Linked DNA regions of Homo sapiens. The protein of the gene in region 2 interacts with the protein of the main gene of each other region in a pairwise test. Each region holds a gene or a part of one and is shown on either strand. Other genes may lie near its edges. The genes, in order: DBH and ALDH1A1.

Region 1 (16,161 bases), about 61 Mb from region 2:
CGTGTGTCCAGGGTGGGACTTGGTGGGAGGTGACTGGATCATGGGGGCAGTTACCCCATACTGTTCTTGTAATAGTGAGCGAGTTCTCCCAAGATCTTATGGTTTTATAAAGGGCTCTTCCCCCTTCACTTGTTCACTCTCTCTCACCTGCCGACATGTAAGACATGCCTTTGCTTTAGTCTCGCCATCCACCATGATTGTAAGTTTCCTGAGCCCTCTCCAGCCACGTGGAACTGTGAATCAATTAAATCTCTTTCCTTTATAAATTACCCAGTCTCAGGTGTGTCTTTATAGCAGTATGAGAACAGACTAATACAATGCTTAAGCCACAAACATAGTGGAAAACTCCCAGGCCTTTCTCTGAGCTGGGGATATGACATCCTCTCTCTGACTGGAGCCTCCAGTTCACCTGGAGCTCCCCTTTGCCCCTCAAGATGCTGGCCTTGTAGCTCCGGTCTGTACAAATGTGGGAAAGGCTGGTTGATATTTTGGTTAGGCTGGGCGTGGTGGCTCACACCTGTCATCCCAGTGCTTTGGGAGGCTGAGGTGGGAGGATTACTTGAAGCCTGGAGTTTGAGTCAGCCTGAGCAACATAGTGAGACCCTATCTCTATAAAAAAAAAATTTTTGGAAAATTAGCCAGCCACAGTGGCTCACACCTGTCATCCCAGCTACTTGGGAGGCTCAGGCAGGAGGATTGCTTGAGCCCAGGAGGTCGAGGCTGCAGTGAGCTTTGATCACACCATTGTACTCCAGCCCAGACAATGGAGAAAGACTTTGTTTTAATCCATCAATCAGTCAATAGACTCCCTCCTATTCCATATTGACGTACTGTTAATGGCAACAGATGATTTCTGCCAAAGGGGTGACAACATCAACCAGACTAGACAAAGAGATTGGCCCTAGGAATTCCACAAGAGGTGACCATTTACAAGAACCTGGAATGGACCAAGAACTCTTAGCAATGACCACACAGTGACTGTATTAGTCTGTTCTCCCACTGATATAAAGAATTACCTGGAACTGGGTAGTTTATAAAGAATAGAGGTTTAATTGACTCACAGTTCCACAGGTTGTACAGGAGCAATGGCTGAGGAGGCCTCAGGAAACTTACAATCATGGTGGAAGGTGAAGAAGGGGAAGCAGGAACATCTTCATGTGGCAACAGGAGAGAGAGAGTGAAGGAGGTTAGTGCTACACACTTTTAAACAACCAGATCTCATGAGAACTCACTCACTATCATGAGAACAGCAAGGGGGAAATCCACCCCCATGATCCAATCACCTCCCACCAGGTCCCTCCCCTAACACTGAGGATTATAATTCAACATGAGATTTGGGTGGGGGCACAGAGCCAAACCATATAATTCCACCCCTGGCCCCTCCAAAGTCTCATGTCTTTCTCACATTTCAAAACCAATCATGCCTTCCTAACAGTCCCCCAAAGTCTTAACTCATTCCAGCATTAACTTAAATTTCAAGTCCAAAGTCTCATCTGAGACACGTCAAGTCCCTCTGCCTATGAGCCTGTAAAATAAAAAACAAGCTAGCTACTTCCATGATACAATGGGGGTACAGGCATTGGGCAAATGCTCCCATTCCAAAAGGGAGAAATTGACCAAAACAAAGGGGCTATAGGCCCCATACAAGTCCAAAACCCAGCGTGGCAGTCATTAAATCTTAAAGCTCCAAAATAATCTCCTTTGACTCCATGTCTCACATCCAAACAACACTGATGCAAGGGGTGCACTCCCAAGGCTTTGGAATATTTCAATCAATCAATCAGTCAATAGACTCCCTCCTATACCATATTGATGTACTGTTAATGGCAACAGATGATTTCTGCCACAGGGGTGACAACATCAACCAGACTAGACAAAGAGATTGGCACTAGGAATTCCACAAGAGGTGACCATTTATAAGAACCTGGAATGGACCTCCATCCCTGTGATTCTGCAGGGCAAAGCCCCCACAGCTGCTTTCACAGGATGGCATTGAGTGCCTGCAGCTTTTCCAGGTGCATGGTGCAGGCTGTCAGTGGATCTACCATTCTGGGGTCTGGAGGATGATGGCCCCCTTCTCACAGCTCCAGTAGGCAGTGCCCCTGTGGGGAGTCTGTGTGGGGGCTCCAAACCCACAATTCCCCTCTGCACTGCCCTAGGAGAGGGTCTCCATGAGGGCTCTGCTTTTGCAGCAGACTTCTTCCTGGACATCCAGATATTTCCATACATCCTCTGAAATCTAGGCAAAGGTTCCTAAGCCTCAACTCCTGCCTTCTTTGCACCCATAGTCTCAACACCACATGGAAGCCACCAAGGCTTGGGGCTTGCACCCTCTGAAGCAATGGCCAAGTTGTACCTCAGTCCCTTTTAGCCACAGCTGGAACTGGAGCAGCGAGGATGCAGGGCACCACGTCCAGAGGCTGCACAGAGCAGCAGGGCCCTGGGCCTGGCCCACTAAATTATGTTTCCCTCCTAGGCTTCCAGGCCTGTGATGGGAGGGGCTGCCTCAAAGGTTTCTGTAATGCCCTGGAGGCATCTTCCCCATAGTCTTGGCTATTAACATTTGCCTCCTCTTTACCTATGCAAATTTCTGCAACTTTGAATTCTTCCCCAGAAAATGGGTTTTTCTTTTCTACCACATGGTTAGGCTGCAAATTTCCCAAACTTTTATGCTGTGCTTCCCTTTTAAATATAAGTTCCAATTTCAGACCATCTCTTTGTGAACACATATGAGTATATGCTGTTAGAAGCAGCCAGGTTATGTCTTGGATGCTTTGCTGCTTAGAGATTTCTTCCACTAGATACACTAAATCATCTCTCTCAAGTTTAAAGTTCAACAGATCTCTAGAGCAGGGGCACAATGCCACCAGTCTCTTTGCTAAAGCATAGTGAGAGTGACCTTTACTCTAGTTCCCAATAAGTTCCTCATCTCCATCTGAGACCTCATCAGCCCGGCCATCTCTGTCCACATCACTATCAGTATTTTGGTCAAAACCATTCAACAATTCTCTAGGAAGTTCCAAACCTTCCCTCATTTTCCTGCCTTCTTCTGAGCCCTCCAAGCTGTTCCAACCTCTTGCCCATTACCCAGTTCCAAAGTAACTTCCACATTTTTAGATATCTTTATGGCAATGCCCCACTTCTTTGGTACCAATTTTTTGTATTAGTTCATTCTAACACCGCTATAAAGAACTACCTGATACTGGGTAATGTATAAAGAAAAGAGGTTTAATTGACTCACAGTTCCATAGGCTGTAAAGAAAGCATGGTTGAGAAGGCCTCAGGAAGATTACAATCTTGGTGGAAGGTAAAGGGGAGGCAAGCATATCTTCACAGGGTGGCAGGAGAGAGAGAGGAGGGAAGTGCTACATGCTTTTAAACAACCAGATGTTATGAGAACTCACTCACTATCACGAGGACAGTGTGTTAGTCTGTTCTCACGCTGCTAATAAAGACATACCTGAGACTGGGTAGTTTATTTAAAAAAAAAGAGGTTTGATGGATTCACAGTTCCACGTGGCTGGGAGGCCTCACAATCATGGCGGAAGGCAAAGGAGAAGCAAAGTCACATCTTACATGGCGGCAGGCAAGAGAGCATGTGCAGGGGAACTCCCTTTTATAAAACCGTCAGATCTCGTGAGACCTATTCATCATCATGAGAACAGCGTAGGAAAGACCTGCCCCCGTGATTCAATTACCTTCCACCAGTCCCTCCTCCAACAGTGAGAATTACAATTCAACATGAGATTTGGGCAGGAACACAGATCCAAACCATTTCAGTGGCCTTGGCCAACCCACCATGCTGAGACACTTCAAACCCAGACCTGTTCTCCTGGGACCAAACAGGCCTTTGGCAATCCCAGCACTTCCAAGACATCCTGTTGCTCCAGGTATTGACCAGTGCCACCCAGAAAGATATCCTCATCAGCACTGTAGCTCATGCTACCTCCTCACCTCCTACGTGACACAGACCATCTCTGTCCTGGTCATTTTAATTCGCCCTTTCCCCAGGGCCTTATGGGGCCAAGTCTCTCCATAACTTGATCAGCAGAGGGGAAATTGGATCAGGGTGTGCAGATCGTTGCCTGCTTCTTACTTTGTGAATGTCAGAAGCCCCCAGGCACAGAGACCTGCTTGTTTCCAAAGTCTCATCTTTGAAAAGCAGATGGCAAGGCTTAGGCTTGATTGAATTTGTGTTTATGTATGTGATGCATTTGATTGTAGCTGGAGGGAGGCTGCCTGGTCCAATAGCTAATTTGGCCCATCAACAGGGTTTAAACCTACTTACCTGTTAGAAACTATTTGTTCCATGGAGGCAGTTGTGCCTTTGGCTGGTGGCATAACAGCCAGCGTCTGAGCATCCCCCTTGACCAAAGCCTTTTGAACCTGTGGGTTGATTTCAATTAGGGAGCCCAAAGTCCTTGGCTCCACAGCCCGGGCTCTGAGGACTGATGCTATAGAGCCGTGGGTACAAGTGTATGAGGGCCGGCAGACAAAGGCAAGAGTTGCACCGCTGTCACTCATAGTTTAAGAAACAAACGACCCACATATTTATCAACAGGGAGTTGGCTAAATCAATCAGAGACCATGCCTGCAGTGGGATACTTGAGAGCTGTCAAAGGCGGAGGCAGCACTGAGCGTGTATACTCAACATATATCCAACATGCACGTGGAAAACACCAGTGGCAGGACAGTGTGTACAGCAGGCCATTTAACAAACAGTGATGGCTCCTCAAAAATTAAAAGTAGAATTATCACAGGATGCATCAATGCCATTTCTGGGTACACACTCAAAGGAATTCACAACAAGGATTCAAAGAGGTATTTGCACACCCAGCAGCATGATTCACAACAGCTAAAAGATGAAGCAACCCAACTGTCCATCTACTGATGATGGATACATCTAGTGTGATCATTCATACAATAGACTCTTCTCCAGCCTTAAAAGGCAAGGAAGCTCTGACACATGTTACAACCTGGATTCACCTTGAGGATAGTATGCTCAGTGAAATAGACCAGACACAAAGGATAAATCCTGTATGGCTCTATGTCTATGTGGTCTTAGAGTCATCAAAATCATGGAGACAGAAAGTAGAATGGTAGGTGCCCAGGGCTGGGGGAGGGGGAATAGGGAGCTGTTGTTTCATGGGCACAGAACTTCAGTTTTGCAAGATGAAGCGTTCTGAAGACAGATGGTGGTGATGGTTGCACGGTAATAGGAATATGCACTGAAAGCCATTGAACTGCACGCTTACAGTGGTTAAGGCGGGACATTTTACATGATGTGACAAATCAATAATAAACAATTTTAAAAATTTCAGAGAATGAAAAGCTGTTCTGACAGACGACATATTGAGCTGTTAATGGTAGTCGTATTTGAGGGAGTGATTCTGCGCCGTGTTTTTCAGGCTTGTCTGGATGTTTATAATGATAGAGCTCGCCACCGTGGAGGGAGCCCTCACTAAGCACAGATGGTCCAGCCTCTGCCTGCACTGACTCGGGGAGCCCCCAGCCTGAGGAAATGCGAGTGTAATTCTGTCACTGTCCCCATAAGCTGAGGAAACAAGGTACAGAGGTTGAGGAACATGCACCTGCCTCTTTCTGCCTTTGTCTTGATTACTTCTCTGGGATAAGGACCATGTCCCTCCCAGTGAAACTCACCTAAATGTCAAGGGACAGCACTCCTGAGCCTCAGCCTCCACATTGCTTGCCCCCGGGTAGGACCACAGATGCCCCCTCGGCCCTGGGCGCTGAGGCCAGTGGAAGCCCTGCTGAGCCTGCGAGGCTCTGCCCTTCAGCATCTCTGGGATCAGGTTTCCAAGAACACCTGGCCCTGAAATGGGCATGGGGGGTGGGATGAGGGCTGACTGACCACTCAGACCTTGGGGCCCAAGTCCCCTGTTCTCAGCCAAGGCCCAGGGAGTCAGGGCAGGTCCGGGGGTCCTGGGCTGGGTGGCGCCGGTCTCAGCCACATAGGTCTGTGTCCAGTGGGGTGTGGCAGCCGCGAGCTCCAGGGGTTGGTGGTGAAGTGGCCCATAAGCCCTGAGCGGGGGTCTGAGGGCTGGTCGCTGGCATTGTAGCCTTTGCCAGGCAGCTCACTCGAACCCTGCCCGCCCACTCTGAGGCTGCCATAGCCCCCATCTTGAGAGTCAGCAGAGCCTGCATGGAACCGCCCGGGAGGCCCAGGCCAGCCTTCCTCTCCAGACTCCATGGACGCCAGACGCCACGCTCTTCCAGGCCTACCACTCTGCAGCCACCACCCATGACCACGGAGCCCTGGCCAGTGCCACTTGTCTCTAGGCCTCGGCATCCTAAGTTGTGAAATGGTGACAGTCAGGGCCTCCATGTGACTTGGAAGGGTTGGGTGCCCTCACTCACGAGAACGCCCAGTGCCTGCATGCTCGCCTAGGGAAGAGGCAGGTGGGCTGCAGACACGGCTCCTACGAGCCTGTGGACTCAGAGGGCATCTCAGGACTCGGGAGCCCAGACCACAACCTGGTGACAGCTGTCCCACACAGGGCTCCCACTGCACATGGCATGGTGCAAAGGGCATTGACCCTCAATTCTCACCACAACCCCCATCTCCTGGGCCTGCCCAAGGCAACTGGTACCCCACAACTTCCTGCATCTCTGCCCCCCCCTCCCACCCTGGGGTGGGCTTGGCTGTGTGAGTGGACTTGGCCCACCAGCCGGCAGCCCCCATGCTGGGCTCTGATACCCCAGGAGCGTCCTTCTGCCAGTGAGGGATGGGTGTGGGAAGGTGAGGGCCCCGGCTTCTTCACCCTTGATGTGACAGTTTTGGGGTGCATTCCACAGTCTCTCCAGGGTCCCCTTGGAACTGAGTCCCTACTGCCCATGGAGGAAACTGATTATGAAAGTACGGTTCGTGAGTGTTCCCACTCCCCTGCCCACCCGTCTCCGCACACTCTGAGCTCTCCTTCCACACAGCCTGCTCACATCCAGACCCTTGCCTCAGCGTCTGCTTTTGGGAGAACCAAAACCATAACAGGACAAAAAGAAGGGAACACAGTCTCCGACTGCACTTGGGGGTCCCACCAGAGTGTGACGGTGCCAGCAGACACTAGGAGAGGAGGGCGCTTGTATTTCCTGTGGCCACTGTAACAAATGACCAAAAACTCTGAGGCTTAAAACAACACGATTTTTTTTTTTTACAGTTCTGGAGGTCAGAAGCTCTAAAATCAAGGTGTCTGCAGAGCTGGCTCCTTTTGGGGGCTCTGGGAGGGGAATCTGTTCCCACCTTTTCCAGCTACCAGAGGCCTCCACATCCCTTGGCTCATGGCCCCTGCTCCGTCTTGGAAGCAGCCTCCTCTCCTTGGACCCCATCAATGCATCTCCTTCTCTCTCTCGTAGGACCTTTGTGATGACATGGGGTCCACCCAGCCAATCCAAGACCACCTCCCACCTCCGGGTCCTTAATCTAATCACACTGAATGTCCCTTCCCCAGGTAGCCTACCCGACTTGCAGGGATCTGGACGTGGCCATTGGGGGACATCCCTCTGTCTGTCACACCACACGCCAGAAGCTCAGAGAGATTCCAGGGAGGGAGGCGGATTCTCATGTTCTCCGAGACCCTCCTGGGCCAGAGCCCTGCCTGTTGGACCCTGTGATGTCAGTGGGTGCAGCAGCCCCCGAGATGGATGCGGGTGAGGGCAGCCCGGGGCTGTCTCGCTAGCCCTCACTGCATCGGCCCCATTCTGGGTCAATGGTAGGTCAACCTGGTGGATCTCTGAGGTGACCAAGCTTACTGACAGATGAACTACAGCCTCAGGAAGAGGGTCATGGCTGGCAGGAGCCAGCGGGGGGCAAGACCAGCAGCCCTGAGTGCTGGTGCAGGCCACGCAGGGCCCAGCCTCTGTAGCCAGAAGTCAGCGCCAGTGCCGGTCCTGAGCAAGATGGCCATTTCACAGATGAGGAAAGAAGGCTCAGGGCTGTGGGGACTGTCCGGGTGGGTCACATGGCCGGCAGGTTTCAGGGCCTCTCTTTCCATCTGGTGCCCACAGTTACGCTGTGGCTTGGGTGTGGTCTGGAGCTACTGCCTCAGGACCCACCACCATCCTGGCAGTGTGGTCCCTTCAGAAAAGCTGAAAATGCAAAAATCAGGCACATGCACCTCCCCCCATGAGCTGCTCAAGAGAGAGGAGCAGTCACGCATCCTTATGGAGAAAAGGAGAAGCAGGACCCAGAAAGGGTTTCCCTGTAAGATTCCTCAGGGCCCAGCAGGCCTCAGCCCCAAGATTGAGGCCAAATTATTGGAGGGGTGTGTGTGTGTGTGTGTGTGTGTAAAACTGAGTATGTGAGCATGAGCCCAGAGCTGGGGGTGCAGGCCACGCAGGTGTGAGAGTCCACCTCCCCATCTCGCTGACCCCTGTGTATGGAGGAGAGATGGAGGCGGGGGAGGCTGTGTCCTGCCCAGGCCAGCCGCCTGCCAGTGACAGTGGAGGACTTGCTCACAGTGGGGCTGCTTGGGGTCACACAGGAGTGGCCTGGCAGGCCTGGCAGCCCCAGCCCTGGAGCCAGCCACAGACTCCTGGGTTCTGCTTCCCTGGGAGCTTCCAGGGGAGTGTCACTGGGGCTCACGATACCGACCCCTTCTGGGATCAGTGGCCCCTTGCTTTTGGCACAGAGCTTCAGGGCCAGAGGGTGCCTCTAATCCAGTAGCTGAGGAAAGCTTTCAGTGGTGCTCTGGGCACCTCTGTGACCTGCCCTGGGCCCAGTCCTCATGCTGATCCCACTGTAGCCACCCTACTCAGTGCCCCAGGCCCTGGACACCTCAGGCCATGGGATATCCCAAGCATTCAAACTCTCACGGCCACCTACGCTTATGAGCAGAGGCAGAGGCATGGTGCCACCGCTGCCTCCTCAGGCAGGATATGCTTTTTGTTTGTTTGTTTTGAGACAGGGTTGTTCGCTGTCATTCAGGCTGGAGTGCAGTGGTGTAGTCAGGGCTCATTGCAGCCTCAAACTCCTGGGCTCAAGCGATCCTCCCGCCTCAGCCTCCCGAGTAGCTGGGACTACAGTCTTGTGCCACTATGCCTGGCTAATTTGTTTTTATTTTTATTTTGGTAGAGACTGGGTCATGCTATGTTCCCCAGGCTGGTCTCGAACTCCTGGGTTCAAGCAATCCTCCCGTCTTTGCCTCCTAAAGTCCTGGGATTATAGAGGTATGAGTCACTGTGCCCAGCCCAGAATGTGCCTCTTAACTTTCATACCGCAGCCCCTATGCTCAGGACGAGGAGGGACATAGGCCAGCTGCCCCAAGTTCCCCAAGGGGACTGTGCCACCCTGGAGTGGGCTCTGTGATGGACAGAGTCACCGTCTCCCAGCAGCTCCCAATCCATCCCATCACAAGTCAGGTCTAGGCACTGCCATCAGACTGATAGTTGAATTTTTCCTGCCAAGAGGAGGTCCCTAAGAGCCTGAGCCACAGGCGAGGGACAGTGCTGTCCTGTGGCCAGGCCCCGTTGTCACTGGGGAGTGGCCTGGCCTGTTCACTCACCCAGCTCCAGTCTGCACCACCGTCGCTCCACTTGGGGTTGTCACTGCCTGAGGTTAGGACGTCAGCAGAAGCCAGCCTCATGTGGCAGAGGCGATGGGGAATTACAGCCTGCAAAGGCTGATGGCATCAGAGAGATTCAGGAAAGCAAAGGGCTTATTAAAAAGCTGAAATTGGTTCTAAACAAGGTCAGCCGTCGATGCGCCTTGGAGGGAAGCCAGGCGCTGAGCAGCAGGAATGGGGCTTATTTCCTGACACCGTGGCCGTGACACCCTGCACCTCCCCGGCCTACCCCACCCCCAACCCCACTCCCACCCCCATTCCCATCCCCACCCCCACCGCCACCTCTGGAGGGCAACGTGCACCCAGACACTGGAGCAGAGGCAGCAGGGGTGGGAGCAGGGAGGAAAGCCCCCCGCGGGGCACCACAGGGAGGCATGTGGCCAAGAGAGCACCTGGCAAGCAGGTGTCACCTCTGAGGAGGGTGAGGGCAGGAGGAGAGCTGACTGTTGCTTCCTTACCCTGGGGTCGGATTGCTCCCTTTTAAAATCCATTAATGCAAGGAAGGGCGCAGCCACGGGGCCATCCGATTGGATTCGCTCCCTCCCGCCCGGCCCCAGTCTCCGCAGATTTTCTCTGCGGTTGCATTTTTCATTTGAGCGTCCCTTCCTCTTGACTCCAGTGGAATTTTTCTGACCTTGGCTGACAAGGTGTGCAGCCCCCTCCAGCTCAGGGCACCCTCTTTGGGGTGCTTGCCCCAGGCACTGGCCCACCCTGTGAGCTCAGGCGCATTGTCTCGCCTCTCCGAGGCTGACTCTCCTGTGTCTGAGACAGGGATGATCGCACACCCAGCCACCCAAGGCTGGCCAGGATGGAGGCAGGGCAGGGGAAGCCCTGGTGCGGCCTGACTTGTGTCTCCTGTCCCTCCCTAGGACTTAGTTATCAGTATTTTGGAATCAGCTGAATCATTTCTGTCAAATGCTAGAGGAAAGCCAGTTTTGAGTTGGATAAAGAAAATGTCTTTGATTCCTGTTAAAAATAAACATGTGTGCATAACACTGCTGAGCACGAGACCGCACCTGCCGTCCCTCCTTAGAGCTCCCAGCAGCTGTTGGTCTTTGGCGTATCCGGGAGAGGAGCGAGGCCTGGAGGTGTGTTGAGCCGTCCAAGGGCTGGTAGCATCAGGGGCTCTTCACTGCCTCTCGCTCCACAGAACCGCTGGGTTGAAGGAAGCTGGAGGGATCAATTGTCCTTGTCATCCAACTTCCTGTGTCTGTAGATGGGGAGGAGGCGCTGGGTTGGAAAGCGCTTCTCTGAGGACGCCAGCTGCGCATTCAGGAGGGCGGAGCAGGATATGACCCCAGAGCTCTGACCCCGGAGGAGCAGGAGGGGTGCCTGGGGCCTCAATACCCCAGAGGGGAGAGAGGTGCCCCCCTTCCCACAACGCGGGCCCCAGCTGGTGCTCGTTTAGCCTGTTGTCTAGCTGGAGCCACCTGGGTGGCCACCAGGCTGCTGGGAGGGCTCACCCCTGAGCTGGGTGTGCTGTGGAGCCCGTGACCCTCACCTCTGCCTCTGCTGGCTTTTGTTATCCCGTGCTGGGAACACCAGTGCCTGCCCACCCCGGAGGCTCTTCGTATCACCGGCTCGCTGTGGCCGCTCCCCAGTCCCGAGAGTGAATGTCCGGGATGCAGCAGACACCTGCTTACAAGGCACAGGTGAGGAGGTTTTGGAACTAATCTGAGGCATGAAGGTGAGGTGCTCTCAGGCGACGGAGGTGGCATGTCCTGATGGGAAAGCCAGGCCTTCGGAGGCTGAGACCCTTCCCAAGGCTCACCAGAGAACTCCCAAGAGTGTCTTTCCCCTGGCCTGGGAGACAATTTCACACCAATGCCACACTCTATTGCACAGGTGATTATGCACTTGGACCTCACCTGCCTGGGCTGTGGGTGGGGGCGAACGGTGCCCCTCTGGGTGCAATCAGTGGGGAGGGGCTCATGGCCTGAGCTTGGCTTTGCAGGATGGCCTGGCCACTGTGGGGCAGAGAGCACTGCCTGCGAGGGCCAGGGGAAGGCTGGCACTTTCTCCAAATTTCACGTTCGTGCAAAGACACAGTCATTCCTTTCTACAGCGTAGAGCTCAGAGCTGAAGCAGCCTCCAGACCTGCTGTCATGGGTATTTAAGGACCTAAATGTTGCTGTCAGCCTATGACATGAATGTGCCCCTAAGGCTAGATTCTGGGTTTCTCCAGAGAGACGAGAAACAGGAGGGAAAAGGAAGGAAGGGAGGGAGGAGGCTGGGGAGGAGGGACAGCTTCTAGTCCAGCTGGAGAGATCTGTCAACCCAGCCTGGGGGGTGGAGCTGGAGGGATCAAGCAGAATGTCCTGAAGGCAGCTGCCCTCAGTCTACTTGTGGGAGAGGACAGGAGGGAGAGGTGCCGTGGTGAGACTGACCCTCGGGCCCACGGGTGGATGATGGCAAAGGTCCTGTGGCAGGTGTGGGAGAAGCAGGGCTGCGGCCAGCTGCCCTGAGAGGCTTCAAATTCAGGCCAGATCTGCTCTGGGCAAGAGGAAGCTGTGGGTTTGGGAGCTTCAGAGACAGGGGAGCAGGCCTGTCACTCACCCTCTTTTCCTTAAAGGCTGTCACCCCCAGCAGTGCACCCTGCAGCCTGCCTATCCCCTGTGCAGCTCCAGCTCCGTCTGTCCCCAGCAATGCACCCCACGCCCATGTCCCCCACTCCCTATGATGCTCTCGCGCCTTCTGGAGCAGCAGTGGTACCAGCTGGAGGCTGTGGAAAAATTGAGAGGAGACAAAAGTGGGAAGAGCAGGCCGTGGAGAGAGTGTCTAAACACAGGGACTATTTGGAGATTGTCTTATTTTTGGTTTGAAATGGGCCCACCTGCTAGTATTGTACAAACGGCTCTGCTCGCTAGGCCAGGCCTGCAGTGGCTACGGGCCTATCCTTCACTGGTCAGCCTGGAGCAGCTCCTCGGACCTCAGTCTGCTCATCCGTGGGTAGAGGCGACGCAGACCCCATCCCACTGGGGACTGGGCCAGACAGCCTGTGAGGCAGTCAGCTGGTGCCTGGCCAGAGGGTGTCTGAAAGGCCTCTTGGCTGCAGGGTGCATCTGCTTTTGGGACAGCTCTTCAGAGCCATCTCAGAAGGGACAGCATCCGCCTGTCTACTTCAACTCCCACTGATGACGTCCATGTGTCATTAGTGCCAATTAGAGGAGGGCAGCAGGCTGAGTGCTTGGCCTGGGGCGCAAGCTTGTGGGAGGGAAAATTGGATTCCCCGCTAGACAAATGTGATTACCCGTGCTGCCTGGACCCACCCCATTCAGGACCAGGGCATAAATGGCCAGGTGGGACCAGAGAGCTCACCCCAGCCATGCCCGCCCTCAGTCGCTGGGCCAGCCTGCCCGGCCCCAGCATGCGGGAGGCAGCCTTCATGTACAGCACAGCAGTGGCCATCTTCCTGGTCATCCTGGTGGCCGCACTGCAGGGCTCGGCTCCCCGTGAGAGCCCCCTCCCCTATCACATCCCCCTGGACCCGGAGGGGTCCCTGGAGCTCTCATGGAATGTCAGCTACACCCAGGAGGCCATCCATTTCCAGCTCCTGGTGCGGAGGCTCAAGGCTGGCGTCCTGTTTGGGATGTCCGACCGTGGCGAGCTTGAGAACGCAGATCTCGTGGTGCTCTGGACCGATGGGGACACTGCCTATTTTGCGGTGAGTCTCTCCTCCCTGCCAGCTCTCCAAACCCTTCCTGACCCGGCACCCCATCTGGCCGTCTTTCTGCACTCACCCTCCTTAACCCAGAAAGTTCTTCTGTCACCTGTCAGTGTTTGAGTTGACTCTGCTCTGAGCCAAGTCTGCACCCCGAGCTTGGGCATCATGGGGATCTCAGTTTGAGGACAAAATAGGAAAGACATGCTTTCCATGGTCCTTGACTGCCCGCCCCAAATCATGGGACCCAGTAATCCCAAGGAATGGAACTATACACAGAGGACGCACACACCACACACACTCGTGCCGCTCCACACCCCACACGCGCATGAGCACAGACCCCACGACCCTCGGCCCTGTAAACAATGCCTAGTACCACGTCCCCAGAGCACACATGCCCACTGATGTGGGCCAGGTGGTGGCGCGTGGCTGGGCACAGCATGAGGCCTGCACACCCATGGGATCCAGCCTGACCTACTGTGCTTGTACCCGTGGACCAACTGAGCAGGTGCAGACACCCTGCCCCTACCCATAGGTGTTGAACAAGCCCCACAGGGCTCAGCCAAAACTGTTAGGATGGGCTCTTGACTCCTTTCCGTCCAAATTTACCTCCACTCTTGTTTCACAGGGTGGAGAAAGGGGAAAAGTTTCCCTTCAAACTGGAGGGGACTTTAGGCCCTTCCACAAGCTGCAGGGGGTCCCCGAAGTGGGCGAGCCCACCGCCTACAATGGGTCCTGCTCCAGCCTTCCTTTCCACATGGGACTGGCCACCAGGGCTTCTTTGTGGATGAAACCCAACTCTCTCCACAGAAACACACAAAGGAGTGACAAAAAAGTTTTATTTCTGAAGTCAGGAGGTGCCTGCTTTATCTGGGAGTGCCGAGCTGGAGCGGGGGAGCTGTGTCTGTGCGGAGCGGCCGGCTCCAGCTCTGCATCTTGGTCTCACCATGGGCTGGTGGGGCGGAGAGTCCCTCTCTGCCTTTTTGGGTGTTGTGAATTCATGAGGGCAGATGGTGGCTGCTGTTTCTGGAGCTGAGCTTGCCCCCTCCAATTCCCAAGACTCGGCCAGGAGGCACTTGCCTGTGTCGCTAGTGAGGCTTAGGGCCACCCAGGTAGGGTGAGTGGAGCTGCCTGGGAAGGGCCCTGCTCTGACCCATAGGGCTGCACAGATTCCTGTGCACAAAGACACTCTGTGGCTCAGGTTCCAGCCAAGAAAGACCTGGGACAGCCCTGATTCTGAGCCGTCAGCCGTCTGGAGGAGCAGCTGAACCCCATCGCTGACAGTTTGGGGTTCTTCGCAAGCCTCTGCCATGAGGCACCCTGAGTGCAGGAGCATTTGCTCCTCTCTGGGGCAGCGTCCCCCCTGCCTGCATTTCCCGGCTGCTAGGGAAGCCAGAGGAAGCCAGGTGACTTTGCCTTTCCGTGCACTGGCAAGGTTAATTTGCACAACAAATTCCTACGAAAGCAAATGTCAGCCTTATTATTCCTCCCTAAGCAATATGTTCAACTAATATCTTCTTGATTTCCAGCTGAAATATCACAGGCGAACTTTCTGCCTCTGTTTAAAATGAGTCTCTCGGCAAACCAGCGGTGTCCCCAGCGGGGTTGCATTGTGTGGCTTTTTTCTCTAGGGAAAGTTTTGCAGTATCTTTTGCAGATTTCTTTTTTCTCAAGGAAATGAAGAAAAGATGTTTTACCCTGAATGTAAGATTAAAAAGAAACACAACCCAAAGTCCTTAAGGCCAAGGGCCCGAGGCTTTCTTGGGGTTTCCATGGGAAAGGCCAGGCAGGGCAGGGAAGCAGCTTCGTTTGGACAATTCTGGTGGGCTCTGGGTGGCTGGGGTGGTCTCTAGTTGCCTGGTTCCTGGCCCTAGGGTGTTTTAGGGTTGGGGCAATATTGGCCTGGGGTGTGAGAGTCAGGTGGAGGAGGTAGCTAGGGATATGGGCTTGGTGTGGGTCGGAATGTTAGGAATATGATTCTCACACACGTGTGAATGTTGGAGGGCAGGACAGGTGTAAACAACTCTGACCATCTGTTTGAGCCTTCAATCAATTAATAGATGCCAAATAGACAAATATGGAATCTAAGAAGGGCCCTTCTTGAGTACGAAGGGCAGCCTGCTTGTTGGGGAAGGCTCCTCGCTGTCTCTCAGTGGGTCTCCCTGGTGGTCTTCCATGTGACCTGGCCTCGGGCCACCGTGTCCCTGCCCCTTAGGGCCCAGTGCAAGGGGAGCGGCCGGAGACGGGGAGGGCAGAGGTCACTGATCCAGATCCCAGGAAGCATCCTCGGAGAATGCAGCAGGTCCAATGCCTCCCTGGGCCTCAGTTTACCTTCTCCAAGCAGGGCTGGGACTAAGGTGAGGGGAACAATGCCTAGGCTGCAGGGTTTAAAGTGGTGCTTCAGGCTGGGTGTGGTGGCTCATGCCTGTAATTCCAGCACTTTGGGAGGGCAAGGCAGGAGGACCGCTTGAGGCCAGGAGTTCAGGACCAGCCTAGGCAACATAGCGAGACCCTATCTCAAAAAAAAAAAAAAAAAAATCCAAAATTACATGTATTTATAAAGTAATAAAGCAGTGCTTGTTCTCAGGGTTGTGCCAGTGCAGGGTGGGCACCTGCTATCAATCACCATCTTAGATGTGGCACCCTGGTTTCTCTCTCCTTTCCTGTTCATGTCCCACCCTGTTCCCAACTCTCCCCTTTCTGAGGCTCCGCAACTCTCCTGCCTGCATGAATGTGGGCAGCATTGGTCTGAGGCATTGTTCCCAGTCTTGAGGAGGCCTTGGGAGCCTCAGGCATCTTCTTAAGAAGCTCAGTGTCCCGCCCGCCAGGCCCGGGAATGCCCATGGCTAACAGAACCTGTGACCTGCTGGCAAGTGACAGCCCTGGTTCCTGGCTGCAGAGGAGGAACCAACTCCACTGTCG
Region 2 (16,105 bases):
AATGTGTCAACCTTTTCTCAGCTTAGGAACCTACCAAAGTACTAAAGGCCGCTGGGAGTCAGGGAGTATGAGATCGGAGATGAATAATGAGGAGGAGAGACTGAACAAAAGTCAGGTGGGGTGTTAAACATTTAAAAGAATCAAAGCTGGATCTCTGGCAACTGCTTTGCACCCTAACCCTGAGGCAGGAAAGCAAAATGTTGAGACTCAAAGTTAGAAAATGTAAAAGGAAATTAAGGAGGAAATAACAAAGGGAAAGAAAATTTTTAACTGTCATCAAATGAATGAAAACAAAATGACAGAATGACGAAAACAAAAAATAGGAGAAATAAAATTTTCCTTTCATTTGTTTTAAATGATAGTCTGACTTTAGTAACGTGAGTATATACTCTTTTTTCTTGTTGTTTGCAAAACCCCATCAGCCTTTTCAATTGTGTCAGGGAAAGAGAAAAGATGCCACAGCATTTGTTTTGAGCCACTCCATCACTGTGTCCTAGAGATGATAACAAAACTTGTCAGCAACTTCTGTACATCATATATTTTCTGTATCAGAGTTAAGATGTAGAAGCGATAGAAAGTTCTGCCCATTTTTAGCAGTATCAAGACCTAGTAATAGAATTGCTCGCATGTAAGCCCTCTTCCTTCTAAAAGAATGCCAAATATAAAGCATAATTCAGTAGTTATTTGTATTCCTTTGACATCTAAAAAAGTATCGATAGAGCAGTGGAAATAGTCAGTGGAAATGGGACCAGGGTTGGGGGAGGGAACGGTTCAGGCAAAGTTTTTAGAGATGTGAGATTTGTGCAAATTCCCCAGTGAACAAATTTCCATTAGTAAGTCAAACGTTACAATGAATCAGGTAGAGATAATATCAGAAAACCCAATATTAGCAACACTTCACATCCTTCTCAAGCAATGCTTCTAAGTTTGTGGATACTTTTGCTATATACATCTATACACCCAAAACATGTCAGCGTCAGGAAAACCAGTATTACACAGATTTACTTTTCTGATTTATTGGATTCTAAGTAAGGGTTTGTGAAGCAATCCTTGCTCAAATTCTTTTGAACATGGTTCTATGTTGTCACTTACACTTTGTAAACATATAATATATCCCCTGGCTATAGTTATAATAGCATCATGATAAATCAAACCAAAGTGCACCCCCCCACACCACCATCCCAAGCCAGATAATTGCTATTTTCAGATATCTCTGTTTGATGTCTGTATTTCTGTGAGATTTATTTTATGCTGATTTGCAACATATCATCCTATAGATTATCCATGCCATTTCAGAGTCATTACCTTTACTTTGGGTTGGTCTTCAAATGAGTTATTTTTCATATTCTCTAAGAGTGTTTCCCTCATTCTGGCAAGTATGTAGTGACAAATTCAATAGGTTAAAGTCCCTGTTACAAAGTTATATAAAGAGTTGTACTGAGAGCCCTTATGAAATGGGGACAATACCCTCTCTTAGGACATGTGTTCTTTACTTTAGAATTGTTAATTCCATTTTCTTACAGTCAGGCAGGTGCCAGAAAACAAAACAACTTGCCAAGACAGCAGTCCTCAGAGATGAGCATTCTAAATATTAGTAAATGATTATCTCCCACTATTAAAATCAATGATTGGTTCTGTCACTGGTTTGTAGCCATCATCATGTTTCTGCTTAGCTCTGGCACTTTCTGAAAGGAAAGTTTCTGATGTGGCTGAGTGCTAGTTTCTGGAAGAAACTGGAAGCTCTATTGTGAAGTAACTGGAAGGTGGTTGCTGCATTGAAGTTATAAGGCTCACTCACCTAAAACTTTTAGACCCTTGCTGCTGGTCAACAGACATTTTGGTAGCATCAGCAAAAGCTGAAAGACTGTTAAGAACACAGAATCTCAGACTTCAGCCTAGATCTATTCTTTCAACCACAGTAAGGAATGAATGATAAAAATGCAGTAATAGGTGTGAAAACAGTTGTTAGAGCTAATTGGGAAAGGGGGATAATACCCTCTTCTCTTAGGATATGTGTTATTTACTTCAGATTTTTTTCTTGATTAGGTTTTCTTGAGTGAGATTCTAGTACTACTGGTTTTGATATTTAAGGAAAAAAGGATATCATGTGGGAAAGCATCAGATCCAAGATAAAAAGATTTAGAATCCAGTTTATTCTACTTTTGCATTTTAAGAGCTATGTGACCTTAAGTCAGTCATGATCTCTGAGCTCGGGCTCCTCAGCTTTGAAATGGGACTCTGCTAACATCTTTTCTAGCTCCTCTCAGTGGTTAATGATGCACCTCAAATGAGAGAAATATATGAAATCAGTTTTGAGCTGTGATAAGCAATATAAATATAACTTACATTGAGAACAGAATGATCATATAATTCTAGGAGTCATCTTGGGAAAGAGAATCAAGGAGAGAAAGGACTAAGTAGTTAATAAGTGCCAGCCACATTCCACAAATTACCTCACTTAATTCTCACAGCCACTTTCCAAGGTAGTCATTCTCATTCCCAATTCACAGACAGAGGAACTGAAGCTCCAGGGGATGAGAAGCTTGGCCAAGGTCATATAATTAAATACATAGAATAGCTGGAAATTGAAGCCAGGTTTAGCTTGTTCAGTCACTGCACCTTGCAGCCAGTCAGCTATTTTTTTCACCTGCTTCCAAGCCCAAAGCAAACAAAATATTGCTTCAGTTGGAAGGAAGTTAAAAACATTTCCCAAGTGAAAGCAGCATCACAGCACAATCAGCTTTGCGTTGAACATAAGTCCTTTCCTGTTTTAAGCACCTCTCAGTGATCTTCCTCAAAATCCGCCAGCCGATCTGGCCCCAGCCTGTACTTCAGTTTCATCTCATCCATTCTCTCCCTTATTCACTTTACTCCAGCCAGATTAGCCTTTGGATAGTTCTTTGAGCATAACATGCTCTTGTCCTCGGGGTCTTTGCATGTGGTAAGACCTCTGGATCTTTGTTCTTCCCTACTCTTGGCCACCTTATTCTCTACATCCCTCAGGCTTACCTTTAAAGCACCTTCCCAAAAATCCTCATCAAAAGCTCTTCTACTCATATCCTCTCAGCTTTCAGTTATTTTGCTTTAAACATTTATCCTAATTTCTGATTAAAGCATTCTCTTATTTTCTGCCCCACACTATTCCACACACCTTCCAGGAACAGAGGCTGCATGAGACGTGAATCATATTAGCCCTCTTATATCATGAGAACTAGCATAGGGCACTCATTCAAGGCCTTGTTAAATAAGAGGAAGGGAAATATGGGAGAAACGAAAAGCAAAAGGGAGAAACAAGCAAAGGGGACAAAGGAGGTATTTGGAAGTTCATGTAGCTGAATTTGTTTGTTGTAAGAATTTAAAGAGATAATCATGGGGGAAAAGAAGCACTTCAAATCGTGCCTGGGACGTATTATTCAATGATTCATAACTCTTCTCCATTGAAAATATCTCTTTAACCCAGAAGGGTTAAACAAAACCAGAAATCTAGGAAAGCAATCTCCTACTCTAACCAAAATCGATTCCATAGGAGTTGAAGAAATGTAGTTCACACAGACATTTCACATCCATGTCAAAGTCCTCTGCCTCATAGCCTCTCCTAGCCCAAACGTCACATTTTCAGTCAAAGCAGAAAACCTATTTCCTTTCAATTTCCCTATTGTTCTCTTTTTCTAAGTTGGCTGCAAACTTTCTCTTATTGGCCTGGGAACAGCTGAGCAGCAGCTGGAAAGACCATGGTAATCAGCAATGGGCAAATGAAAGTCAGGATGAAGAAGGATACAAGAGGATTCTGGCAAGTCAGTGTCCCAGAGTAGTGGAATTGACCTTAGACAAGTCTCTTGCTAGTGTGTTAGCTCAAACTGCCAGCATTGGCAGTGTAGCTTTGTCACTTACTTGCTGTGTAACTTTAGTAAGTTACATAGCCGCTCTGTTCCTCAGTTCCCTGAACTGTGAAACAGGAATAGTAACCTCCTCATAGGGTTATTATGAGGAGTAAATAAAATCATTGTCAAGAACTTAAACAGTCATGGCAGAGTAAGCACAATAAATTTTACCTATAATTATTTATTGTGTGTGTGTGTGTGCGTGTGTGTGTGTGTGTGTGTATGTATGAGTAAAATGTCATTAGCTGATGAAGGTCTTTTGTAGCATGAACAAACCATGGTTTAATAAGTGAAGCTTACTAATTAAGTTAAACATTTTGGCGTTTGAATTCTGTCTGAGAATGCTTGTCTTCTTGAATTTCCTATTTCCCTTTTATAAAAAAAAAAAAAGAAAAAAGAAAAGGTAAAACAACAGTATTGTGAAGAGAGAATGGCAAACAAAGTTACCGAATCCTGTAGGAGAAAATTTTTGATCCCTGAAATCTTGGAAGACCCTTGGAACTTCACTCTGATGCAATCTTTGTCAGATGGGACATGACTGTACAAAAAAGAGTGACAGAAAAGCTAGGAGAAGACGTGAGGCATACTTGTAGGAAACAGGTCTAGGAAAGGTTGGGTAAAAGGGAATATTCTGGAAAAACTGGAAAGGATTCAGAAAAATAGGACTAGGATCACTAACGTTAAATCATTTCCCATGTCCAGGCATTATTTCAAGGGCTTTGTACGCATTAAGTTCGTTTAATACTTTCATCGACCTTAGAAAATACGTGCCTTTATCATCCCCATTTTAAACATAAGAAAACCGAGGCAGAGAGAAGTAATGTAGCTTGCCCAATGATCACATAACTTTCAAAGAATCTCTTCATTTAAAGGCTCAATAAAATGGAAAATGTGGGGTTCATTTAGAGTTGGAAAGAGGAGTAATGAGGATAAGGATGGGATATGAGTTCATATTAGTGAATTTATAGCGATGTTTTTGAGGTTTTAAATTCCAAAAGCTTTTGTATAATTTTAGAAAGCATTTCTTAAACTCTGATCTCTCTTTAATCTACCCCAACAAAGAAATAATCAGACTGTACTAGAAAATAAGTCATAAAAACATATGCATCAATAAATTCTTTTGTTTGGGTGAAAAGCAGTCCCAAGCTTGAGAGTATGTAGCTTTTCTATCGTAGTTGTAATATTTTTTTTTTTACTCAACCCTGTCTGTTCTCTCCAACTTGTCCTAACAACCAATATACTTCTAGCTATAATAATAATAAAAAAGGACATTAGAATAGTAACAGAAAAATAACACAAGACTTTAGGGGCTGGTAATAGAAGATAATTCCTCAGACACTATAAACTCCTTGCTTACTTGGTTTGTAACCAGGGAACTTTTTATAGTTAATAACCATCATTTTTTTTTTTAACTCCTCTTGCAAGAGCAAATTCAATCCAATTCTTCACTGGGACATAGTAAACAAAAAATGCGAAGGCATTTGAAAAAGTTCACCCATTTAGATTTAATTACATACATAACTGGCGTCCTCCCAAGTGTGAAAACGCTGTAACCAATAAATTAAACAATAAAATGCTATCTGAGCAGAACAGATTTATATAGAAGATGCACGAGAAATCAAAATTCACTGACTTGTTTGGAGTATTTTTACCCAGAAAAGTTCTTAAACACAGAGCAAAACGCCTGCTCTTTGAGTCTTGCCTTCTTTTGGACACTTAGGTCAGTCACTTTCCCTAGAGGGGAGTTGTTGCACAGTGACTTCGAAGTGAATAGGTTTCAATCTCAAAATCATCTCTCTGTGTTAAGGGTTCATTAGGTCTGTGCTTGTATGTTAGATTTTTAGGACCATCTCATTTGTCTAGTACCGCTTCTTACATGCTTAGTTAATGACTACTAAGTGAAGCTTAATTTAGCAGGAAGGTTATTTACATTAGAGCTTCCTTGAAATACACACACAAGGAAGACTTTGCAAACTTCTGCAAAGCCAAAGGAGTGGGGAGACAGGGGCATCCAGACTACCAAAATATCTTCCTAGGTAGTATTATTAAAAAAAAAATCCCATTAATAATAGTAATACAATAATCTGAGCATTGTCGACAATTTTGAGCTTCATGAAATGTATTTTTAAATGTACCCACTTTCAATTGAAATTTCTTGTGAATGACAAACTTGGAATAAGAAAATGAGGGAGACTGGACTCTTGCAACCTTTTGGACATACCTTTGCCAAATGTAAATTGTTTGACGGTATGGATTTACTGCATTTTTCATGCTACCATTTGTAGTAAAACTAAATGGAAAAAATCTTTCCTCTTTAACAAAACCTCGTGATAACAATACCTTAAAATACACTTCATAGCTGCTGGTCAACCATGTTAAAGGCACAATCTGATCTCTGCTGCTACTTTCCTGAGGAAAAGAGCCAATCAGCTGAGCAACTTCCTCATTTGTTGTGCTTTATGAAAATGAAAATGCAACAGACCTTGGGATTTCAAAGCCATCCATGGTTACAAGTGAGGAAATAAATATATAACAGTGGGGACTTTTACTTTATCATTAAATTATAATGCCCTTTGTTTTTCTGTTGGCTAATTCAGACAGCAAAATGGCTCTCTCTTGATTTGCAAGAGTTAATTTCTTACCATACTTTCTGCATCACACCATAAAGATAACTTCAAGTAATTTTGGTTAGATTGTGTTTTATTCATTTGTTTGTTTTGGAGTTCTAGGATCTGACAGGAAAGCAGTGTGAAACAGGCAAAGTTCAGAGTTACTCTCAGAACGACTCAAGCAGGATCCATTTCCTAGTTCCCCCCAGCTGCGGATTTTAAAGTCTGGATCTAGCTCCTGCTCTTGTTTCTCTAAATATTTATCAGTTAACAATTACACATCTGCTCCAATGGCAACAAACTTGGCTGAAGAAATAATGCTTTTCTTCCTCCCACCAAAATATGCAAAATAATGCAAGTCCATCTGAAGATTTTCGAATCCAATTATCAGACTTAAGTCCCCCTATTTTAACACTCATTTTATTAAACATATTGGAAAGTTATGTTATTTCAGTATGCTCTCTTTCTCCTTGTTTGCTTTCTATTGTTCCTACTCGTTTGGTTCTTTCCAGTAAGCTTCTCTAGTGAGTATTTTGCTCTCTTATCATACATGCCGGCTATAGTGAAGTTAATAGAAGTGCTTAGTAAAGTCCTCTGAATCCTGGTATAAGAATCCTTTCACACAGAAGAGAATTCCTTTCGCTTGGAAATATTTTAAGAAATAAATTTATGAAAGATTGTCTGATATGATTTAGATCATATTTGATCAGGACACTAAACTGAGACCTGCATTTTGCATGCCTTTTATTTTTATATTTGCAAAGGGCTCTTTACACAAGTTTACTTAAATTGACCTTTAATGCTTTACATAAATGCAGTTTTTGCAAACCCGAGTCAAAGCAGAAAATAGAAGTTTTACTCACCTTAGTATATTGAATCTTCAAATCGGTGAGTAGGACAGGTAAGTCTGGCGTGCCTGAGGATGACATTTCTGATTCGGCTCCTGGAACACAGGTGACTGGCTCAGCAATTTGGTTCTGATAGAGCACTTGGCTTTATTTGTTCCTTTTTTATCTGCACGGGCTAAAGTTTATTTGCATACTCGGATACGATTGGATGAACAAACTCAGAGCAAAAAAAGAAAACGACACTACTTATTTGTAACACCTAGGGCAGGAAGCCTTTGACTTTAAACTTAAATCCTTAAGAAACCAGTGCTCCAGCATCGAATTTGTACCTGGAGACAGTGCACTATTTGCAGATGAATTAATTTACAAAGCCGAAACCTGTGATAAGTGTATGCAGCAGCTGCTCTGGCCACTAAGGCCAGTTATTATTTTTTTGACTTCTCATGCTTTTTAATGCTACTATGTAACTTTCTGTTCTCTGACAGACTTGGAATCAGAGAATTTGAGGATTGAAAAGAGTCTAAAAGGGCACTTGTTCTCAGTAGAAGCTGGCCAGGTGTCTTCAGGACAAGGCTTTCAGGAAATCAGTCCATCTCCCAGAAAATCAAGGTGCTGTTTGGGGAAGAAAGGCCCTTTATCTACACCCTACCCTAAGTTAGTTTTAAAATATCGTATCAGTCTTGTGTATTTTCAGTGCTGGGTAAGTAGACCTACTGTGATCTCAGAAGCCCTAAATTATCTTTATTTTCTATATGTGAACAGAAAAGCCAGCAGGACTTTTAGGGAATTCGGAACACACTGTCACACACAATCACCACAATTAGAAATATGGCAATATCATCTATTAATACTCATTTAAAATGAAAGTAATCCTGGTTTTGGAAGTTGTCTGTATTTATCAACATAGGCAGTGTACAAAGACTAAATTTAAGCAGGGCTTCCAAACAATTCAAGTTCTTAAATTAATATTTAGCTGAAGGACAATTTTTTAAACAGTGTTACTCCCATTTTAAGTACAATACTTTATTGTATTGTAGCTCTAGCAAACGTTACAATAGGAACAAGATAAAATACTCTGGATGCTCTGATTGTGGAGAATCAACCAATTTTTTTTTTTCTAGTGAAACTTGCCAATTCCCCTGAATATGGGACTTACATAGGGAAACTAAAAATTTCTGAATTGTTTGCCCAAATCAGGTGCAGCACTTGTTTCCCTTTCTACCCTCATTTCATATCCCCATTTTAGAGACATACAGAGGGTGAGTAGCTTACTTATGGTCACAGATCTATTAGTGCAGGACCAGAATTTCATTTCAGGCCAGTCTGACTCCCAAACCTGGACTCTTATTTCTGTTTACTATTTCTACCCTATTCTCCACAAGAGAACTCCTACATGGGTTCAAGCATCAACTGCTTTGGTTTTCTCAGTGAATAGTCACCCTTACAGGCATTTAAACATAACTTTTTATTCATCTAAGACAAGAATTTGCAAAACTTTTTCTGTAAATATTTTCAGCCTCTGGGCTGGATGGTTTCTGATATAATTTACTTGACTCTATTTAAAAGAAACTGTAGATGATAGGTAAATTAATGGGTGTAGTTGTTTTCCTATAGAACTTTATTTAAAAAGACAGAAGGCAGGCCAGATTTGGTGCACGGGCCAACTCCCTAGATTCTAAGGCAATATCATTCCCAATGCCTTTGACTCCCCCGTGTCTTATGTTTGATGACCAGATAGAAACTTCTGTGTTCTTTCAACATTTCTCTGTTTCTTTCTTTTTGGAAAGTCTAATTGTTTTCTCTCTCAAAAATGTGTTTTGAGTTAAATGCACAATTACACAACAGCTGTTACATAACTTGAGAGTGGCGCTCTGGCCATGCCCAAACAGCTGTGTTTTGCTGCTTTCTTCTCCCAGAGTCACAGTTGTTTGTGGATTCAAATACTGGTTTATTTGATGTCCAGGCGATGAAAGCTCAAGGCTTCATAACATACTTGGCTTGTCATCTCACTTCTTATATGATCATTCTCAATTGTATTTTATTGGATAATTATGTAAGAACAGTCCCTTTATACCAGGCATTCCTGAATGTAGGCAAAAGGAGTTGCTTTGGAGACAGGTTACCACACCTGCCCATTTAATTTCAGCAAATATTTACTAAGTATCATTTATGCATCCATAATTCTTTAGCCCTAACCTCACTTAAGCAGATCTTTTCTGCCTAGAAACCACAGGGCCTGAGACCTATATTTTTGAGGTAAACATCATCCTGCCCTGAGAGCTTATTTTGTAGAATAGCATATTTCTGGGAATTGCTGCATATGAGGAAAAGATTTCATCAGACTACTTCTATTCCTTACAGAGGAAATAATGGCTTTTGTGAGAACCTAGGGACCAAGGTTGCACATTTTAGAACTGGACCCAGGATTGTACGTTTTTATGGTATGCCAGGACTATGCAGCAGAGGAGGAGCTGTCCCTTTAACTTGAGAGTAATCGACAAATGATGTTTCATCTTCTTTTTCCTCCTTATGAACAAACTAAATCACACACACACACACACACAGGCACACACACATATGGAGAGAGAAGCAAGAAACATAAGAGGATAGTTTATTCATCTCTTGAATTTGACTTCTCCAGCCATTTGTGAAAGCTTTCATTATACCAAGAAACATATAGATTATGACTTCAACCATTCTTGAAACTACTCTTTCATTTTACAACAAACATCTCCAGAACTCCGTCCAATCCTCAGTTCCTGAAAAGATAAAAGGAACCTAATCTGCCACCCAGGACTTAAAATTTTTAAAAAAATGTTGAAAAAAGTCATATGATGAATTAAAAATAGCTTCTGCAATGGACTGAATTTTTTTTGTCCAGTCACAATGGATATGTTGAAATCCTAACCCCCCATGTGATGGTATTAGGAGATGGAGCCTTTGGGAGGTGTATTAGTCCATTCCCATGCTACTAATAAAGACATACTTGAGACTGGGTAATTTATAAAGGAAAGAGGTTTAATTGACTCACAGTTCAGCATGGCTGGGGAGGCCTTAGGAAACTTACAATCACAGTGGAAGGGGAAGCAAACACGTCCTTCTTCACATGGTGGCAGCAAGGAGAAGTGCTCAGCAAAAGGGGGAAAACCCCCTTATAAAACCATCAGATCTCATGAGAATTCACTTATTATCATGAGAACAGGATGACGGTAACCCCCCTCCATGATTAAAGTACATCCCACCGGATCCCTCCCATGACATGTGGGGATTATGGGAACTACAATTCAAGGTGAGATTTGGGTGGGAACACAGAGCCAAATCATATTAGGAGGTAATGAGGTTATGAGGGTAGGACCCTCATGAATGGATCAGTGCTTTTATAAAAGGGACTCCAGAGAGATCTCTCGCTGTTTCTGCCATGTGTGGATGCAATGAGACATTGGCAATCTGTAACCCAAAAGAGGGCTCTCACCAGAACCCAACTATGTTGGCACCCTAATTTCAGACTTCAAGCTTCCAGAACTGTGAGAAATTAATTTTTGTTATAGCAGCCTGAATGAACTAAGACAGTTTCTTTTCATATTTCCTGATTTCAAGATGCTGGAACCATTTATTGAAGATGAACCTCTCCTACTCCAGTTACATGACCACTCCCCTAACTATTCTCTGTTGCCTTAGCATGTCTGCCTGTTGGTAAACCTAGCAAGAAATCTATCCCTATGCTTTTGATTACTACATTTTTATCAGATACCACATTGCTCTTATGCTTATTTGAGTTTTAATAATTTGGGAAAAGTGGATCTTGTATGTAGTGAGAGAGTCTGTACTTAGTTGACAAGTTGATGTTAAAAATGGAAGTGGAAGGCAGAATTCAAGTATATGAACATATGTATTTGTTGACTAATTTCTGTTCACATGCCATTCTTCTTCAATTGGAAAAATTTCCTCACCTCTGATTTCTCCTGCTCTTTACATATCTTTTCATTGTTCTTCTCTTTGGCTTGTGTTACTGAGATAGGATAGATGCCCCTCTAATCTGGTCTAACCAGGACACTAACTGATTAGTAAGGTCACTAAAAGAAACAGTACATTAAAGCCTCTGTAAGATAATTATTTGAGTTTAAATAGGTTTTTGCTAAACCTTATGGGTTGAGGCCATTTCTTGGAACTGGATTTGCTGCTTGGAATTTGAAATAATCTTGCATAAATAGTACTCATAGTGTTTTGTCTAGTTTCCAGTTTGCTTCCTTAATGTGTAGAAAGAAAGACATGAAAGACATCAATGAGTCAATCAAAATGTAGACTACTTTGAGATTTCCACAATTTTTTCTTTTTTTTTTTTTTATAATTCTCATGCAGATTATCCAACAATGTGTTTAGAAATTTGATGATATTGTTTGTAATATATTCAGTTTAATTTTCATATAAACAACTTTTCTTACCACCCCTGCCCTGGCAATGAATCAATATTTTGAAGCTATTGAAGGGGACCAGAAGACAAATAATTAAAGAATAAAGCTCTATAAACTGGAAAACATAAGACAATGGATTCTTTCCTAGAATCTCTGGAGAGAGCCTGACCTGTCCACTCCTTTGATATTGGCCAGTGAAACTGATTTCAGATCTCTGGCTTCTAAAAGTGTTGTTTTAAACCGCCAAGTTTATAACTGTTACAGCAGCCATTGGAAACTAATGCACTAATCAATAAAAGTTCAAGTTCATAGGTGTCAAAATGTATATGTTGTCATTGATCATGCACCCGTCATTCTTTGTGTCATTCAGGTTTATTGTTACTATCTAAATATTCTAATTTAAATAAAGGTAAGCTTTCTATCTGTACCTTACAATGAAAAACTCATCAGGTGTTTTATATATTTTATATACATATATATTTATGTATATATATGTATGTGTATATATAGAGAGAGTAAAGATGAGAAAGAGGTTTATTTGGCTCATGTTTCTGTAGGCTGTACAAGCATGGCACCAGCATCTGCTCAGCTTCTGGTGAAGCCTCCGGAAGCTTTTACTCATGGCAGAAGGCAAAGGGGGAGCATATATGTCACATGGAGAGAGAGGGAGCAAGAGAGAGGGGGAAATGTGTCAGGCTCTTCTTATAACCAGCTCTCCTGTAAATTTATTACCGTGGGGAGAGCACCAAGTCATTCATGAGAGATCCACCTGCATGACACAAACACCTCCCACTAGACCCCACCTTCAGCACTGGAGATTACATTTCAACATAAGATTTGTGGGGGAAAAACATCCAAAATATATTATTCTGCCCCAGTTCCCCCAAATCTCATGTTCTTCTCACATGGCAAAATACATCATTCCTTTTCAATAGTCCTCCAGAATCCTAGCTTGTTCCAGCATCAACTCAAAAGTTCGAAGTCTCAAGCCTCATCTGAGACTCAAGGCAAGTTTCTTTTACCTGTGAGTCTGTAAAATAATAAACAAGTTGTTTACTTCCAATATACAATGGTAGTACAGGCACTTGGTAAACATTCCCATTCCAAAAGGGAGAAATTGGCCAAAAGAAAGGGGCAATGGGACCTACACAAGTTCAAAATCCATCAGGGTAGTTGTTAAACCTTAAAGCTCCAGCGTAATCCTTGACTCCATGCTCAGCATTCTGGTGTGAGAAATGTGGTCCTGAGGCCTCTGGTAGCCCTGTCCCCATGGCTTTGCTGGGCACAACCCACATGGCTGTTTGCAAGGGCTGGAGTGAATGCCTGCAGCATTTCCAGGCTCAGAGTACAGGCTGCTGGCGGCGCTCCCATTCTGGGCCTAGAGGGCAGTGGCCCCATTCCTACAGCTCCACTAGGCAATGCCCTGGTGAGGACTCTGTTTGGGGCTCTAACCCCATTTCCACTTAGCACTTCTCTAGTAGAAGTCCTATGTGGGAGCTCTGCCCCTGCATCAGGTTCCTGCCTGGGCACCAGTCTGAATACCTGCAGACTTAACATTGCATGGAAGCTGCCAAGCCTTATGGTTTCATCCTCTGAAGCAGTGGCCAGAGCAGTGTCTAAAGCCTTTTGAGCCAAGGCTAGAGCCAGAGAGGCCTGGTATGGGGAGCAATGTCCCAAGGTAGTGTAGGGCAGCAGGGCTCTGAATCTGACCCCGAGAACCACTCTTCCTTCCTAAGCCTCTGGGTCTGTGGTGGGAGGGCTTTGAAATGGCTTTGAGGCCTTTCTCTCCTTGTCTTGAATATTAGCACTTGGCTCCCTTTTAGTTATGCAAATCTCTCTAGCAAGTGGTTTTTCCTCCAGCTGGTGGATTCTTCTCCCGAAAATGCTCTTTCCTTCTCTACCACATGTTCAGGCTGAAAATTTTCTGAATTTTTACACTCTGCTTTGCTTTTAATTATAAGTTACAACTTTAAGTTTTTCCTTTGCTCCTAAATCTGATCATAGGTTGTTAGAAGCAGCCATGCCACATCTTCAGTGCTTTGCTGCTTAGAAATTTTTTCCTGCCAGATTCTAAGTCATTACACTTAAGTTTAAACTTCCATAAATCCCTACAGCATGGACACAATGCAGCCAGGTTCTTTGCTAGGGCATAACAAAGGTAACCTTTGCTCCAGTTTCCAATAAATTCCTTATTTCCATCTGAGACCTCATCAGCCTGGTCTTCACTGTCCATATTTCTATCAGCGTTTTGGTCACAATCACTTAACCAGTTTCCAAGAGGTTCCAAACTTTCTCTCATCTTTCTGTCCTCTTCCGAGTACCCCCTCCCCAACAAACTCTTCGAATGTCTTCCTGTTACCCAGTTCCAAAGCTGCTCACATTTTCAAGTATCTTTATAGAAATGCCTCACTCCTTGGTACTAATTTTTGATGTTAATGCATTTTATGTTGCTTTAAAGAAATACCTGAGACTAGATAAGTTATAATTTTCTTTTAAAGAGGTTTATTTGGCTGACAATTCTGCAGGCTGAACAAGCATGGCACCAGCGTCTGCTCTGCTTCTGTTGAAGCCTCAGAAAGCTTTTACTCATCGCAGAAGCAAAGGAGCAAGTATGTTATATGGTGAGAGAGGAAGAAAGAGTTACATTTTAAAAACCTTCCAGTTTTGGTTGCATTATAAATCTTTATTATATTGCAAACGTATTATGCAATAAATAACGATTTCTGTGAAAGCTTTTGCTTTTTAAAGTAATTATTATATTTGGAGAATATAAAACTTTTGGTTTGCATTTGCTTGCTTGAATTTGTTTTCACATTTTAAAGTTATACATACATATCCAGATCTATGACCACAATCCAAATTTATCTTCCAGGCCCTGGCTTTGCATTTCAACTGCTGGTCAGATAACTAAGCTAAATGCCACACCTCATCATGTTGCTGGGTTTGCAAACCTGAGAGCCAGCATATTTGTTTTATGTGGACTGTGCAATACTGTACAAATTAGAAACATTTTAAACCCCAGATTTTAACTTCTTAAACTGTCAGAAGACCTGAAGAATAGTTTTAGCCTCTCTGCTACACATTAAAATCACCTGGGGAATTCAAAACAAACAAACAAAAAATAAAAGATTCTGACTCTGTAGGAGTAGTTTGAGCCCAAGTGCGTTTAAAGTGCCTTAGGTAATTCTAATGTGTGGTCAGCTGTCAGAATCATTGGAGCAGCTCTGGGTTCCATTTCCTCATAATGCAACCATGAAGCTGAGTAGTAAAGGTTCTCAAAGTTGGAGCAACAACTACATCCACTGGCAATCTTTTAGAAATGCAGTGTCTGACCCCATCTTAGACCTACTGAATCAGAAACTCTCGGGTGGGGCTCAGCAATTTGTGGTGTAACAAGCCCTCCAGGTGATTCTGATTCATGCTCAACTTTGAGAATAACTGCACTCCAACATAGACCTCGATCTATCTCTATTATTTATTCTAGTCGCCTTTCACTTAGGTTACTACCTAGTCCTTTATTTTATATTTTAAGACCACTAAAGGAACACATTATCATTTTTGCAACATAATCTTTTTCTTGAATTTCCTGTCTCTGATTAGGACAAAACAACACCAACCGAACTTCAGGCATTGGCAGTTTCTTGACTTTTTTTTTTTCTGTTAAAATATTAATTTTATTTAATGAAACAAATTAACACTTTCAAATTTCCAGTGTCCTTATATTTTAGATTTAGGTTTTAAAGAGCATACAGCTGGACTGCTTTTTATCCAACCTGTCTTTATTTAACGTTTATGTTTAATATGTATTTAATGTGTATATATATTTACTCCTTTATTTATATCTATTGTAATTACTGATGTACTTGTGCTTTCTCTTTGTCTTTAGATCAGTTAGGATTAAATTTGGCTGCCTCTGATGCAAAACCCAAAATAAATATTCAAGATGGAAATGGATTCTTCTCTCACATAAACAGATTGTAAGCAGGTTGTCCATGGCAGCCATGGTGTCAGAATGGAAAGACAGAGGCTGCTTCCAGCTCACTGCTCTAACATCCCTAAGGTATGGCTCTTTGCCTCCTGATAAGAGAAGACTGCTAGAACTCCAACCATTACATTTAAATTCCAGGACTCAGAGGAAAGTGACAAAGCTCTAGGGTCCATCTACATTTTGAGGAGGTTTCCCTGAAGCTTGGAGCTCATTGACCTTAGCTTAGTCTCATGTCCATACCTAGCTATAAGGGTAAATAAAGATTGTAAGCTTTCTCTAGGTAGCCTGGTTCATAGTTAAAAATCAGTGCTTGTAAGGGTTAATATCCAGAATCTACAAAGAACTTAAATTTACCTGAACAACCCCA

Evidence for each region.
Region 1: the proteins of ALDH1A1 (region 2) and DBH interact in binary tests that used the Homo sapiens proteins (3 or more experiments, as listed by UniProt).

The regions. Positions count from the first base shown.
Region 1 is NC_000009.12:133,623,469-133,639,629, forward strand, and holds the start of DBH (dopamine beta-hydroxylase precursor), read left to right. Parts: upstream 1-12,894; 5' UTR 12,895-12,903; coding exon 12,904-13,242; intron 13,243-16,161. UniProt on the Homo sapiens protein: Catalyzes the hydroxylation of dopamine to noradrenaline (also known as norepinephrine), and is thus vital for regulation of these neurotransmitters.
Region 2 is NC_000009.12:72,945,582-72,961,686, forward strand, and holds the start of ALDH1A1 (aldehyde dehydrogenase 1A1), read right to left. Parts: upstream 7,473-16,105; 5' UTR 7,420-7,472; coding exon 7,354-7,419; intron 1-7,353. UniProt on the Homo sapiens protein: Cytosolic dehydrogenase that catalyzes the irreversible oxidation of a wide range of aldehydes to their corresponding carboxylic acid.